2 separate regions of the Homo sapiens genome follow, and region 2 is linked to region 1. A link means that fine-mapping ties the variant in region 1 to the expression of a gene that starts in the linked region. Tissue or cell type: testis. Region 1 holds a variant in brackets; the other region holds the start of a gene. All regions are shown on one strand. Distances are between the middles of the regions.

Region 1 (8,352 bases):
TTTTTTTTTTTTTTTTTTTGAGACAGTCTTGCTCTGTCTCCAGGCTGGAGTGCAGTGGCATGATCTCGGCTCACTGAACCTCCATCTCTCAGTTCAAGTGATTCCCCTGCCTCAGCCTCCCGAGTAGCTGGGACCACAGGTGTGCAACACCACTCCCAGCTACTTTTTCTGTTTTTGGTAGAGATGGGATTTCATCATGTTGGCCAGGATGGTCTCTATCTCTTGACCTTGTGATCTGCCCACCTCAGCCTCCCAAAGTGCTGGGATTACAGGCATGAGCCACCGTGTCTGGCCGTGGGAACATTATGTTTTAACTGTGAAACAAACTAATTTGGTGGTAGTGGAGAGAACACCCTGTTAAATATCCAAAACGTATTTTTGCATTATTTTCAATAATTCTAGTTTTTTTTCTGTCTTTCTAGGGTGTGCCATGTGACTTGGTGACAGGTGAAGAGCGTGTGACAGTTCAGCCAAATGGGAAACAGGCTTCACATGTTTCTTGTACAGTTGAGATGTGCAGTGTTACAACTCCTTGTATGTATATGCTGTTTAAGAAACTATGGTTTGGTATTTTTAATTTTTTTTTTTTTTCAAGACAGAGTCTTGCTCTGTTGTCCAGGCTGGAATGCAATGGTACTATCTCGGCTCACTGCGACCTCTGCCTCCCCAGTTCAAGCGATTCTCCTGCCTCAGCCTCCCAAGTAGCCGGGATTACAGGTGCCCGCCACCACACCCGGCTAATTTTTGTATTTTTACTAGAGACGGGGTTTCTCCATGTTGGTCAGGCTGGTCTCAAACTCCCGACCTCAGGTGATCTGCCCACCTCGGCCTCCCAAAGTACTGGGATTACAGGCGTGAGCCACTGCGCCTGACCATGGTATTTTTAATTTTAAAATACACTTGAACATGTGAAATACGATTTTTTTGTGTGAAGAAAAAATTTTAAAATCTAGAAAAAGAAGAGAATAAGTATGACAAACGTGCGATCCTGCCACCACTGACAAATGCCTGCACCTGAAGTTCTTTCCCTTTTTCTCTTAAAAGAGCTGAAATGTTAATAAGCATAATTGAAATTTCCTTTGTACCACTCTCCAGTTTAATTCCTCTCTCCTCTTTTGTTCTAACTGGTAACAGATATTTGGTGTGTATAGTTTTCCTGTCTCTTTTCAGGATATATATTATATCACTGATACGTATTACCAGTATTCTAGATTGTTGTGTTTTAAAACATTTATGTGATTATTGTATTATTATTGTTCTACCACTTGCTTGTTTACTCCACAAATGTGTTTAGATCTATCTAGTCTTATTGAAGTATCTATAGCTACATATTTGTAGTTATTTCATTTAAACTGTTTTATAGTATTCCATCTTAGAACTGAAATTATTTGTTCCCCATTTGTTAAAGGATATTTAGGTTGTTTAAAGTTTTTTCCTGTTATGTACACTGCCACAATGAGCTTCTATTTAAAGTTGTTTTGTTTTGTTTTTGAGTCAGGGGCTCACTGTGTCACCCAGGCTGAAGTGCAATGGCGCAGTCATGGCTTACTGCAGCCTCGACCTCCTGGGCTCAAGCAATCCTTCTGCCTTAGCCTCCTGAGTAGCTACAACTACAGGTGTGAGCCACCACACCCAGCTAATTTTTTATTAATAAATTTTTTGTGGAGATGGGTTCTTGCTGTGTTGCCCGGACTGGTCTCTAATTCCTGGCCTTGTGTGGTCCTCCCACCTAGGTCTCCCAAAGCAGTGGGATTACAGGTATAACCCACCGCACCTGGCCTTAACATTTAAGTGAAAATTAACTTTTTCCTTATTATGTAAGCAATCATATCTTCATTATTGAAAATATAAAAATGTAAGCAAGCAAACAGAAGAAAACAAATGTACATAATTTCCCAGTCCCACCTATCCGGAATCAATAGGTGTTAATTAACCCTATATATTTTCCAGACTTTGTTAATATTTGTGTTCATGTTGTGTATGCATATAGTTATATGTGCATGGTGGGTGTGTATATTAAACAAATAGGAAGGTACTTTACTATTTGGTAGCTTGCTTTTTTTCATTTTAATAATCAACTTTGTGAGAAGAATAGTTTTTAAAAAATCAATACATTATAAAGTAATATATTGTACAGTTGCACAGAAGTTTATAAATCAGAATTTCTTCTCTATGTCTTCTCTTCTAGTCTTGTTTGTACATATCCAGATCACGAAGTAGTTTTTTTTTTTTTTTTTTTGAGACAGGGTCTCACTCCTGTCGTTCAGGTGGGAGTGCAGTGGCACGATGACAGCTTATTGCAGTCGTGACCTCCTGGGCTCAAACAATCCTCCTGCCTCACTTTTAAATTTTTCTTTTGTAGAGAAGAGGTCTCACTTTGTTGCCCAGGCTGGCCTCGAACTCCCGGGCTCAAGCAGTCCGCCTCGCCTCGGCCTCCCAAAGTGCTGGGATTACAGGCATGAGCCACCATGTCCAGCCTCAATAAGTAATTTTTAATCTGATGATTGTTCAATATAAAATTAGCTTTCTTTACTTTCCTAAGTGTCATTGTATTTTTAAATGTTCTCTTTTCAATTCTGTAGTATTTGGGGAAGAAAGTAAAATATAATATATGAATTACAGGGAATAGAATAAGGTATTTGGAAGCATTTTAGCTTTAGAAAATGAGATGAGACACTACTTTTTGCCATAGCGATGGATTTAAAACCCCTAAGGATGAGCATGACTGAGGCCCAAGGAATTATTCCTTCCACTTCACTTTCTGCTCCTGAGAGCTGCCTGGTTTCCTGTGGTAGAGATGCTTCATTAGTAAATGAAGGGCTGTCACCTCCTTGTTCTGGAACTTGCCTTCTTCTTTTACTTCTGTCCAGATGTGATAGTTCTCATCAGAGAAATTCTCCAGGCTGTCTCTTAGATTGCAAAAAAACAGGACAAGTGGAACTGCTCAGTGTGGGAGGCAGTGTGGTAGAGTATGTAAGAGTATGGACTTGGAGCTGGATGTGGTGACTTGTGCCTGTTAATTCTGGCTACTTAAGAGATTGAGATGGGAGGATTGCTTGAGGCCAGGAGTTCGAGACCAGCCTGAGTAACATAGCAAGACCCTCATCTCTAAAGAAAAAAAAACCTTTTTTTTTTTTGAGCTGGAGTCTTGCTGTGTTGCCCAGGCTCGAGTGCAGTAGTGCAATCTTGGCTCACTGCAGGCTCCGCCTCCCGGGATCAAATGATTCTCCTGCCTCAGCCTCCAGAGTAGCTGGGACTACAGGCGCACGCCACCATGCCCGGCTAATTTTTGTATCTTTAGTGGAGACGGGGTTTCACCATATTGGCCAGGATGGTCTCGATCTCCTGACATTGTGATCCACCCGCCTCGACCTCCCAAGAAAATGTTTTTAAAATTAGCTGGTCATGGTGCTGCGTGCCTGTAGTCCCAGCTGCTTGGAAGCTGAGGCAGGAGGATTGCTTGAGCCTAGGAGTTTGAAGTTACAGTGAGCTATGATTGTGCCACTGGACTCAGGCTGTATGACAGTGAGACACTGTTAGGAAGATCACTTTCAACCCAGGAGTTCAAGGCCATCCTGAACAACAGTGAGACCCTGTATCTAAATTAAAAAGAAAAAAAAAAGAGTATAGACTTTGGAGCTAGATGGCCTGGGTTTGAATTTCATCTCTGCATTTAACTGTATAACTTAAGGCAAGTAACTTAATTTCTCTGGGCCTCTGACTTTTTCTGTCAAATGGAGATAGTGATAATACTTAACCTCATAGATTTGTTGTGAGGATTAAAGAGGAGGTACTTAAGAGGAGGTAAAACACTTAGAACAAACCTGCTGGAAAAGAGGAACCCAGTAAGTGATGGTGGTAGTGGTGATGGTGATGCTTGAATTTTGGTGTTGGAATTTGTTTATAATACTATTTAAGTAGATGGTATTGCTCATGTTAACTTTTTTATTTTAAGATGAAGTGGCTGTAATTGATGAAATTCAAATGATTAGAGATCCAGCCAGAGGATGGGCCTGGACCAGAGCACTTCTAGGTTGGTGGTCGTAATGCTATAAAACCCGTGCTTTATGACATCTGCGCTGAGATGCATTTTTATCTGCTTGCCATTGCCAACCAAATAGAGTCACCTAGAACCTTTCTTTTTGACACAAAAAAGTAAACTAAGTATGAGTTTTTATTTTCTAAATATTATTTTAATAATGGGAAATCTATTTTTTCCTGTGCTAAAACTAGCATAACCATGTAATTAAAGTTAAAATGTTCAAATCTCATATTTACACAACTACAATTTATGTTTTGGTGTGTTTCATGCTAGTCTTTTCTTTTTTGTATGTGCATATGGTGTTTTGAGAACATTAGTTTTGTATCTTGCTGTTTTTCATGTGACATTTTTCATTATGTATTAATATGATCGCATATCTCTATTGAAGGGCAATACTGTAATTTGCTCCATAGAGTTGAACCTTTTTTTCCCTATTACTAATAACGCTGCAGTAAAAATCTTTGTGGCCAAAGCTTTTTATTTTTTGAGACAGGGTCTTGCTCTGATGCCCAGGTTGGAGTGTGATGGCGCAGTTGTGGCTCACTGCAGCCTTGACCTCCTGGGCTCAAGCAGTCCTCCCATCTCAGTCTCCCGAGCAGCTGGGACCACAGCTGTTTGCCAACATGCCCCCTGGTTAACTTTTTAAATTTTTTGTAAAGACAGAGTCTCCCTATGTTGCCCAGGCTGGTCTTGAACTCCTGGGTTCAAGCACTCTTCCCACCTCAGCCTCCCCAAATGCTGGGATTACAGGCATGAGCCACTACACCCAGCTTATTTTTTATCTTTT[T/C]AATTATTTCTTTAGGATAGGCTCCTGTAAGTGGAGTTCTTGAGGTCCATAGACATGAATGAACATTTCTACTGCTTGATGTTGGAGTGAATTTTTGATCATGTTTTAGGGCAGATGTTTTCAAATTTAAAAACAAATAGCTGAACTTGGCTGGGTGCGGTGGCTCACGCCTGTAATCCCAGCACTTTGGGAGGCCGAGGCTGGCCGATTGCTTGAGGCAAGGAATTCAAGACCAGCTTGGCCAACATGGCGAAACCCTGTCTCTACTAAAAATATAAAAATTAGCCAGGCGTGGTGGCGCATGCCTGTAACCCAGCTACTCCAGAGGCTGAGGCACAAGAATCACTTGAGCCTGGAAAGGAGATATTGCAGTGAACCACAGTGAACCGAGGTCATGCCACTGCACTCCAGCCTGGGCGACAGAGCAAGACTCTGTCTCATGGAAAAAAAAAAAAAGGCTGAACTCTTTTTTTAAACAAAGAGTATACATTGAAGCCTGTTATGTAAAATACATGGAAGTGGATCTGCTCGGGGATAAGGAGCTTGGAGTTTCTTCTGCCCTCCAACCCCCAACCTCTGAGGTACCTCAGCGATTCCATGGAGCCTAATTTGAAAAACACAAGTATAGGGTCTGTGTTCAGTACTTAGCATCCAAATGCCAGCTTCTAATCCTGGCTCATTTCACTCTGATAGAGTTGAAACTTTGGCCAAAGCAATTTAAAAGGCCTGAGATTAATAAAAATTGGATAATCTTTGCCCATTAGAAGTTGGTGATTATTTCAAGGTTTGCATCAGAGATAATATTTTTGAAAATACTTGGTAAGGTTGTAAAGCAATATGTAAGCCAACGTAAAGTACTTTGGCTATGTAAAATGTTGTATATTTAATTATAAATCTTTAAAATTAAGAAACCCAGTTTTGCATTGACAGGACTGTGTGCTGAAGAGGTTCATTTGTGTGGAGAACCTGCTGCTATTGACCTGGTGATGGAGCTTATGTACACAACGGGGGAGGAAGTGGAGGTATTCGATTAGATGCTTTGTTCTCCAGGTGGCATATCAAATAGTCCAGAGTACCTAGGCAGTGGCTTCAGAGGCCCTAGATAATGCCAGCGTCAGAACTTAACTAAAAAGAAAGCTTCATTTTCTTGTGATCAACTAGACCATATATATTTGATTGAACCTCATGATCTGAAGTTCTGACAGAGTGGTCATCACACCCTAAGTCTTCCAAGAGTACAGGAAATTCTTCACTTCTTGACAAAACCTTGTGGGGCTTGAGTAGATCTCTTCGAATTAAATAAATCAGTACTCTTAGAAGTTGGAGACCCAGCAAGTTTGTCGTTTTCAAAGTGTTGTATGTCAGATATTGGGGCCTTTGATACACATCTAATTGCCAGACACAGTTTATATTCCTTTTTGAAATTCTTAGAGTTGGAAGTAACTGGTTTCCTTTTAATCCTGCTTCTCTTTTTCTTTACCAGAGTTCTATAGTAAAATGAATTATTATTATTATTATTATTTTTTGAGACAAGGTCTCACTCTGTTACCCAGGCTGGAGTGCTGTGGTGCAATCACAACTCACTGCAGTCTCAGCCTCCTGGACTCAAGTGATCCTCCCACTTCAGCCTCCCAAATAGCTGGGACTACAGGTGTTTGCCACCATGCCCATCTAATTTTTTATTTTTTGAGCAGAGGGCATCTCACTGTGTTACCAAGGCTGGTCTCGAACTCCAGTGCTCAAGCAATTCTCCCACCTTGGCCTCCCAAAGTGCTGGGATTATAAGCATAAGCCAAGGAAATAGTTTTGAATTAGCCTGTTATTTTAGTTTTGTGCTCAGTTTTCAAGGAGAGATAGTGGAATATAGTGGAAGAAATTTTGGAGTCCATTCTGTGTTTTGCCATTCTTAGCTTTGCATTCTTTAGACAAGTCACAGAAGGTTAGACTTGCAAAATGTGCCTCAGACATTAATTTTTTATTGGGCTCAGTTTTACTATTTTATAAAATGGAAATAGCAGTTAATAACCTTTCTGAACTTAACACATTGCCGTGAAAATGAAATATATGAGAAAAAGCTTTGAAAACAGGTGAAACACTCTGTTTCATCTTATTAATTTAGAGATGCCAATGAGAAGTGATGGTAACACTTATAATATCAAAATAAATGTTTTTCTGTGTTTTCTTTTGAAAAACATTGGTACTTATCAGTTTTTAGCTACTCTTAACTGCATTACAATCTTTTCACTTAATTACTAGTCACAAGAAGTTGAGTTGGGTGTGTCATTTTGCCATTTCATGTCTTTATTGTAGGTTCGAGACTATAAGAGGCTTACCCCCATTTCTGTGCTGGACCATGCACTAGAATCTTTAGATAACCTTCGGCCTGGGGACTGCATTGTCTGTTTTAGCAAGAATGATATTTATTCTGTGAGTCGGCAGATTGAAATTCGGGGATTAGAATCAGCTGTTATATATGGCAGTCTCCCACCTGGTAATTATTGACTTTCCTCGTGACAAGATATGAAATCTCCTATCTTTGCAATTTATGTTGAGATATATATAAAAAAATGGTAAACAATATTGAATTAAGCTGCTTGATGTATTGGTAATTTGTTAAACGTCATATAAAATAAATAATTTTCTATTTCATCTTAGTGGAAATAGAAGTATTTTAATTATAGTTCTTGTTAGTTGCTGCTATTATTAGACTGTATCTTAAATGTTGAGTTTATTATTTTCTTACAGAAATGTCATTGAAATCTGGTCTTGACCATGTCCTTTTAAGTTGTAGTCCTGAAATCTGTGTCCTCAGGAATAAGGCTAGTGTGGTGGGGGATTGTGTTGCTATATGACGGAGTATTTGAAGGAATGGATGTAAAGGATAAGTGGCTCTTTGAGGATATAAAGAAATAAAGTTTGAAACAGTAAAGGTTTTATCATTAAAAATGGGAAGAACAGGAGGTGAGGGTTTCCAAGATGTACTTAGCTTGATGTAATAAAAGACTGAGAACACTGATTTAACATAAATTGTTCTTGTTTTAGGGACCAAACTTGCTCAAGCAAAAAAGTTTAATGATCCCAATGACCCATGCAAAATCTTGGTTGCTACAGATGCAATTGGCATGGGACTTAATTTGTAAGTAATTTGTTTTTAATAAGATGAATATTTGGTGAGTTAAATGGTGGTTTTTTTGTTTTTCAGTTTTCTAATTGGCATTAATGACCAAACGCTATGATTTGGGAGAATAAATATTATAGGCTAGATTTGAGGTTTGTCTTGCCTACACCTATTGAGGGAAATAAAAAGAAAATATTAAATAGTGCCAGGACTTTTCTTAGGGACAGGGTCTTGCTCTTTTACCCACGCTGGAGTGCAGTGATCAAATTGTAGCTCAGTGCAGTCTTGAACTCCTGGGCCCAAGTGATCCTCCTGCCTCAGCCTCCAGAGTAGCTGGGACCACAGGTGCACACCACAAAGCCTGGTTATTTTCTTTTTTTTTGGGTAGTGACAAGGTCTTACCCT
Region 2 (8,000 bases), 24 kb after region 1:
GCTGGGATTACAGGGGTGAGCCACCGTGCCTGGCCAAGCTTTTTTATATAGCTTTTTAACCAATCTCTTGTTTTTGGCTCTATGTCTTGCCCCAGACCTCTGATTCCTGAGCATTTTAGAGTTTTACAAACGTCACAGCTCCTTTCTCACCCGAGTCACCCTCTGCGGGCACTCAGGTTTCAGTGTTTGCTCTACTAAGCAATTACTTCCGTGAGCTTCCTGTCTTCCAGAATTATGTTAAGATCTCTTATCAGTCACTGTTTCCTTTCTTTTTGTCCTTGTAGGTTAATGCCGTGTTTAACCAGAAGTCTCATTTGCTTTGAAAAGTTGGTTATTTTGTGCAATTGAGATTGTAATTATTCTGAAAAATGTTAAAAGTCACATGAACTGCATTTTCTTGTATGGCTTTTCTTTCCTTGATAGGTGTTTTGCAAATATGACCCTTAATGTACAGTTGTGATTTAGAAATCATGTCAGAATTTCTTCCTGAGCATTCCTTGTCTTCGGTTCAGAATAAACCTGTAAAAATGATTAGCAGCATTCTTTTGAAACTTGCTGAGGTTAGCATTTCTGCTTCATTTGTGGCTGCTCCGATAGAGACACCATTGTGACTGTAACCACTGGCAGCGTTTGGAAGTCTCTACATTGGTTTTCTTATTATGGAAGTTTGCTCTCCCACACAGTTTCTGATTCTTTTGCAGCAAGTGGAATACCAGCAGGTCACACTGATTTATGTTATGACGACTTAACTTTGGACTTACCATTAAAAAGAATACAGGGCAGAATTCAAGAGCTGTTTTCTTTAGTAACAGGAATAGAATTTCCATAAAATTCCCAACTGTTCCTTTAATTCCAGTACATGGAACAGGTACTTTCTAATGGTTTAGGATCATGCCTTACTGAGTGGACTGAAAGGTCTGCACACATTTTCTTATCCCAAGAGACCAAGTTGGGTGAGCGAAGAGGGGTCCCCAGCCAGGGAAAGGCTGAGCTTCAGGAGATGCTTCTAGTGTGCCCACTGTAGACCACATGCCTTTCCTTGTGTGATAATTTGCTTTCTTTCTCACTGTGACCACTGACATAGCTATGAAGCTTTTACAGATATGAATATAGACTTGGACCTTTACCTGCAGTTTAAGAAAAGCCAAAGTAGGACCCCAGGGCCTGTGCACTTTCCACTGTGTTAGAAAGAGCTTAGGGCCATTTTTCCAGCTGAGGCCCCAAGTCTCCCCGTGCCTTGTTTCCAGCCTAGCCAGTGTAGCACAGCGGGCAAGCAAGAACTCTGCAGCTAGACTGCCTGCGTTCAAATCTCGATTTCACTGCGTCCCAGTTGGGCTCTGTGCCTTGGTTTCTCCATCTGTAAAATAGGGAGAATGACAGTTACTGTGGAATTAATATCGTAAGACATCTAGTAAACCCCATGGGGAAGTGTTTGCTAAATAAATAGGTAAATTTTGCTGGACTTCTAGTCCTCCCACCATACTCAGTACTTAAAGAGAAACAGAAATTATCTTTGAGCCTTGCCAAAACGGACCGTGTAGATTAAAGTGGAGCTCTATGAAACGGAGATGTGTCTACAGATGGGAGAGTTTCCCTTCTTACATGGAAGATTTGGGCCAGATGGGTGATACGCTTTAACTAAAATGTCACTTGTCAGTGTCGGCCCTCAAATGGGTGTTCTTAAGCAAAATCCAACTACTTATAAGATTTAAACCTAGATATCCTTGAATAGCCAATAGAACTGTAGTAAGGGTGAAAAATCCCAAGACTTGAATTGGAGTAATCAGATGAGGAATGATAAAATAACCTAATTATTTTGTCTTGATTCTATAAAGTGAGAGGGCTGAGCTAGATGACTCCAAATGCATGTGATCTCTGTAATCATTAAACTTCCTGGTTTAGTCACCTTACTCAGGCCTGGAATGTAGACGCTAATGTGCTCAGATTAAAAAGGGAATGATGCAATAGATGAAAATCCTCTGGTGTCATTTGCCTGATTAAAATTCCAAAGGCTGCCTATCTGACTCACACAAGCAACCGTGAGATTACAGAGATCTTTGGTTATGGTTTGCATCTTTTGACCACTGGCTACTGTAACCTCTTATCCCTATGTCGAACAAATCAATGACAGTTGGTTCATACTGCACTGCCCAGGTTACATTTTTTTTTTTTTTTGAAATGGAGTCTCACTCTGTTGCCCAGGCTGGAGTGCAGTGGTGCAATATTGGCTCACTGCAACCTCCACCTCCTGGGTTTAAACAGTTCTCCTACCTCTGTCTCCTGAGTAGCTGGGATTGCAGGCACCCGCCACCATGCCCAGGTAATTTTTGCATTTTTAGTAGAGACAGGGTTTCACCATGTTGGCAAGGCTGGTCTCGAACTCCTGACCTCAGGCAATCTGCCCACCTCCCACCTCAGCCTCCCAAAGTGCTGGGATTACAGGTGTGAGCCACTGCGCCCAGCCCAGGTTACTTTTTAAATGGGGGAATTAAATGCTGGGTGTGGTGATGCAAGCCTGTAGTCCTAGCTACTCAGGAGGCTGAAGCCAGAGGATCACTTGAGCCCAGGAGTTCGAATCCAGCCTGGGCAAGACTGGATGGAGTTCAAATCCAGCCTGGGCAAGACAAGATGTAGTGAGACTCTGTTTCTGAAATAAATCAACTAGTGGGGGAATTAGGATAAATAATGTCATCACTTACGGGCAGATGGCCTTCCCAGGATGTTATCCTCAGCCAATGGGGGCTAGGGCCTAGGATGCGCATTTCAGAATACCAACAATTCCACCTGGTTTGGGGCACTGAATGGTTTGGGGAACTAAAGGTTCATCTTTGTTTGCTTGTGTAATAAAGGAGCAAGCTAAAAGTCATAGTCTGAGGGTAAATTGACTGAAAAGGATGGGGATCCTCAATCTGGGAGACAGTTTTAATATGCTTATATCAATCTGAATAAAGCATCTGGAGTAATTTTAACCGAGCCTCCTCTGCATTGTGGGCTTAAGTGAGACCTGATGGCTCGTCCACACGGCAATGGGTAGAGAGCACTGAATTCCAGCTACTCAGGAGGCTGAGGCAGGAGAATTGCTTTAACCCAGGAGGTGGAGGTTGCAGTGAGTTGAGATTGAGCCACTGTACTCCAGCCTGGGCAACAGAGTGAGACTCTGTCTCAAAAAAAAGAAAAAGAAAAACAAATTCTTAACATCCCAACAGAATGCTGCTACTAATAGTTATCAATTGCGTATCTATTGAGTATCTATTGCGTGGAGAAAGCAGGGCTGGAGAGCCAATGCCATGTATTATAGCTGGGCCCTGGAATCAAACTTCCAGGATTGACCCCTTGCTGTCCTGTTTATGGCTTTGTGATCACGTAACCTTTCTGGGCCTCAATTTTTTCATCTATAAAATAAGAGTGGGCCGGGAGCAGTGGCTCATGCCTGTAATTCCAACACTTTGGGAGGCTGAGGTGGGTAAATCGCTTGAGCCCAGGAATTCAAGACCAGCCAGGGCAACATGGCAAAACCCTATCTCTACAAAAATACAAAAATTAGCTGGGCATGGTGCCACGTGCCTGTAGCCCCAGCTACCCTGGGGATTGAGATGGGAGGATCACCTGAGCCCAGAAGGCTGATGTTGCAGCGAGTCATGATTCCACGACTGCATTCCAGCCTGGGGGATGAATGAGACCCTGTCTAAAAAATAATAATAACAAGAGTAATAAAAACAAAATGGGATTGGTAAATGCTCCATCCATGTTAGCCGCTGTTGTTAACGCTGTTGTTATTGGTTTCATTAGCCAGCCAGTGACTGTGGGAAGAGTGCAAGGTTGATTGTACCCATGTATTGGGTGCTTTCTGGGTCCTTCTCATGTCAAGTATGATGAGTGAGAAGTGAGTGAATAAAACATCTCAGTGGCCTGAGACATTTCTCTTTTTTTTCTTTTTTTGAGATGGAGTTTTGCTCTTGTCACCCAGGCTGGAGTGCAATGGCGCGATCTCGGCTCACTGCAACCTCTGCCTCCCAGGTTCAAGTGATTCTCCTGCCTCAGCCTCCCAAGTAGCTGGGATTACAGGCACCTGCCACCACTCCTGGCTAAGTTTTTTGTATTTTTAGTAGAGATGGGGTTTCACCATGTTGGCCAGGCTGGTCTCGAACTCCTGACCTCATGATCTGCCTGCCTCGGCCTCCCCAAGTGCTGCGATTGTTACAGGCGTGAGTCACTGCACCCGGCTGGACTGAGACATTTCTTATCTGTGACTTCCTTCTCTCCAGCAGTGATTCCCAGTGAGCACTGGTGACTTCAGTTCACTCTTTCTCAGGAATATTTTTTCCTGGGTCACTACCTGTGAACTAAAGATTTTCTGGCTTAACACTGTGAATAGGTAAACATTTATTGATCATTTTCTGTTAACCATGGGCTATTAGTTAAGAGATCTGATCTGTCACAAATGGAAGAATCTGCCCCAACATTCTTGAAATCCCATTGACCAGGACAATGTTTAGTTTTAGTTAGTTCAGTGCTTCTGAGGAGCAGGGGGTCACAGAGTTATGCCACTGGCATAAAAAACTAAAGAGAAAAGCCTGGGACTGGAAATTTGCAGAGCAGCTCCACCGGTTGAAAGTTGGCTTTGTTTAGTGCCCAACTTCGCAGAAGATTTTCCTCGGCTGAGTGGGCTTGGCAGAGCCCCGGCTTGAGAGGGTTGCTTAGCAATGAGATTTGGTGGCACCCAATTCTCAAGTAGTCAAGCAACCCATCAATACCCTGCTTCCCCCTCCACTAAACCTCAGCTACCATCCAGAGCCTCCTATTAGACAATCAAGTGTGTGCCAGAGGGAGGGACCAAAGGGGTGGGGTGGGGGGGAGTTTAATCATTGAACCAAGCAGGCTGGAGGTATTTAGTCCGCAACACCTCGCTCCCCAGGAGGTCTGCCAGCCTGGACTGGAAGCGTGCAACACTCCAGAGTCGTAGGAGTGAACACTGCACAGGAATCTCTGCCCATCTCAGGAGAAACCAAACTTGGGGAAAATGTTTGCGGTCCACTTGATGGCATTTTACTTCAGCAAGCTGAAGGAGGACCAGATCAAGAAGGTAAGGAGGACCCACGAAGCTGAGAGATGCCCAGCTCCTTCTTCACGGACAAAACTGATTCCCTTAAAAAAAAAATCAGAAGGGAGTGAAGAGAGCTTATTAGAAAAGATACTGGGAGCATATGACCAGTAAAAGACTCACTGAGGGAAGAGGGAGTAATTCTCCCACACTCCTGGGCATTGCATTACTGTCCTGAACCTTACACTTCACTCGGAACTTCCTGGCAGGTATTGGATGCGGAAGCGGGTGAGGAGGGTGTTTGGAAAGCTTGAAGAGGATTGTGTTTGCTGTAAGGGATGTTTGCTCGGAAAGGCCACAAAGGCGAGGAGAATCATTTTCAAAGAAGTTTTAAGAACTGTTGGAGCAGAAGGCTGGGCGCAGTGGCTCACGCCTGTAATCCTAGCACTTTAGGAGGCCGAGGTGGGCGGATTACCTGAGGTCAGGAGTTCGAGACCAGCCTGGCCAACATGGTGAAACCCCGTCTCAACTAAAAATACAAAAATTAGCTGGGTGTGGTGGCGGGCACCTGTAATCCCATCTACTCGGGAGGCTGAGGCAGGAGAATCGCTTGAACCCAGGTGGTGGAGGTTGCAGTGAGCCGAGATCGCGCCATTGCACTCCAGCCTAGGGGACAAGAGTGAGACTTCATCTAAAAAAAAAGAACTGTTGGGGCAGATCTGTTTGTTCATGTATTTGAAAGCATATAAATGTGGGCAGCAAGAAGGTGTGAGTTGCAATAGACAGTAATTGAAATATCTATTATTGGCACCTGCTATTTGCCAATGGTACACTATTCATGGTGTGCATTATTTTGTCACTTTGCTCAGGGAACTTGTCTACAAAATTCATTCCAAAGTGGGCTGGTTAAAGGTTGCCAAGGGTCAACAGGAGGGAACCAGGGTTCTTTCCAGGCAGCTAAAATGAGCCCAGTCTGCTACTCTGGCCACACCGGCTGGCTGTCACGGCCCTGGGCAAAAAGCATCTCTCAAAGTGCAGATGACAGAAGTCCTCCTAGCAGGAGGACTTAGCCAAGGTCACCAAGTATTTAGGATGGAATGAGGATTAAATCCAAGTTGGCTGACTCTTCCTTCAATGCTTTCTGCTGTGCCATGACTCCCTCCTGCTTTACAAAATGAATAAGGAGGCCAGGCACCGTGGCTCACGGCTGTAATCTGCATACACTGGGAGGCTGAGATGAGCAGATCTCATCTCAAACTTGAGGTCAGGAGTTTGAGACCAGCCTGGGCAACATGGAGCAACCCCATCTCTACAAAACATGTAAAAATTAGCCGGTCATGGTGGTGTGTGCCTACAGTCCCAACTACTCGGGAGGCTGCGGTGGCAGGATGGCTTGAGCCCGGGAGACTGCGCTACTGCACTCCAGCCTGGGTGACAGAGTGAGACCCTGTCTGAAAAAAAAAGGAAAGAAAAGAAAAAAAAAGGCCAAGGATGGTGGCTCATACCTATAATCCCAGCACTTTGGGAGGCCAAGGTGGGTGGATCACCTGAGGTCAGGAGGTTGAGACCACCCTGGCCAACATGGTGAAACCCCGTCTCTACTAAAAATTTAAAAATTAGCTGGGCGTGGTGGAGTGCGCCTGTAATCCCAACTACTCAGAAGGCTGAGGCAGGAGAATCCCTTGAACCCGGGCAGCAGAGGTTACAGTGAGCCGAGATCATGCCATTGTACTCCAGCCTGGGCAACAGAATGAGACTCCGTCTCAAAACAAAACAAAGAAAGAGAGAGAGGAAGTGTGGCCCCTTACAGCCCTCAGGTACTTGGTGGGATAAACTCCCACTAAATTCTATTCATTTAGAGAGTTGAGTTAGAGGTTGTAGCAAATTTAAAAACATTATAAAGCAATCACTTGTTGATTAGATTCAGAGCCCTCTACTGGCTACTTAAGGAGGCGCTGCCTAGGAATCCACTTTCTTTTGTTATCTGCTTAGTAAAGGCACAAGTTGCACCATGTCTCTCCCACCCCCAAGGGGGAGCCTTTGGAACCCTGAAACCTTTGATTCTGCAAACTTATTTCATTTCCTTGGGCTCCTTTGTGTTGGTTAACCTTTTGTACCCTAGGATCATGCGGGACATGTTTGTCCAACAGCCCTGGTGCAGGCTCAGGAGCACCCTGTGATGGGAAATGCAGCCTCTGCTGATGGGCTCCAGGTCCTTCTGGAAGGACAGTCAGCCTTTTTCAATGCCGGGAGCTGACCTCCCTCTCCCTGTGGGAGGCGAGAAAGTTGGAAGCACTTTTATAGCCACCTTAAGCAAGTGCCCCAGGAAGTCTCTGGGGTAGTGTGGGAGACTGGTTTATGGCTGCTGGGCTGAGTCATGGTTCTGAGAACACTCCTCCCAACACGTGGTGGAAACACACCTGGTCAAAAGGCACAGCTCGTTTCTCTGCGGTCAGGCAGTGAGTCCCCTTCTTCGTCTCTGTGCTTCCTGCCTCTAGAATTGTCCAGATCCTGGGCCAGCGGTGCCTGCAAGGGTTACTACTGAGACCCTGGAACAATTTCTAAAAATCTTCCCATACCAGCATGGAAACAAAAATAAAACAAAATGAAAAAAACGAAAATAGAAACCACTCTGACAGATTCTTTTCCAATTCAATATATTGACATTATTTGACCTATTGATAGCACCAGGCCAGACCTGGTCACTGACCTGCAGATTGTTCATCCACAGGAGAACTGGGAGGTTTTCAGTGTGTATTTTTCATGGCTCTGTATGTCAACATTACAAAAAAGTGGAAATGTTACTTGTAATTCCACCTTTAATTTACTTTTAATCTCAAACACTTTCATATTTGCTGGGTGGAAGCCTTCCTAGTTTTTCTTCATCCTGTATGTTTTTAGTTATGTTTATAAGGTACATACAGTTCTGAACTGCTTCCCTCACTTACTGTTACAGTGT

Evidence for each region. PIP is the estimated chance that this variant, and not a neighbour inherited with it, causes the effect.
Region 2: it holds the start of HKDC1, and the variant in region 1 is fine-mapped to the expression of HKDC1 in testis (GTEx, PIP 0.99).

What each region holds. Positions count from the first base shown.
Region 1 is chr10:69,191,233-69,199,584 of GRCh38, forward strand. SUPV3L1 (Suv3 like RNA helicase) reads left to right here. Exons shown (of 15, transcript NM_003171.5): 6 at 423-534; 7 at 3,956-4,033; 8 at 5,760-5,851; 9 at 7,140-7,320; 10 at 7,872-7,965. Among named protein-coding and RNA genes, the nearest start is that of SUPV3L1, 15 kb to the left of the region's middle. The variant T/C (reference allele first, on the strand shown) is at 4,830.
Region 2 is chr10:69,215,416-69,223,415 of GRCh38, forward strand. HKDC1 (hexokinase domain containing 1) reads left to right here and starts at 4,917. Exons shown (of 18, transcript NM_025130.4): 1 at 4,917-5,083. The coding sequence starts at 5,021. LOC101928994 (a long non-coding RNA gene) reads right to left here. Exons shown (of 5, transcript NR_120648.1): 3 at 7,752-7,810; 4 at 7,462-7,610; 5 at 1-1,357. RefSeq lists an enhancer at 2,774-2,943.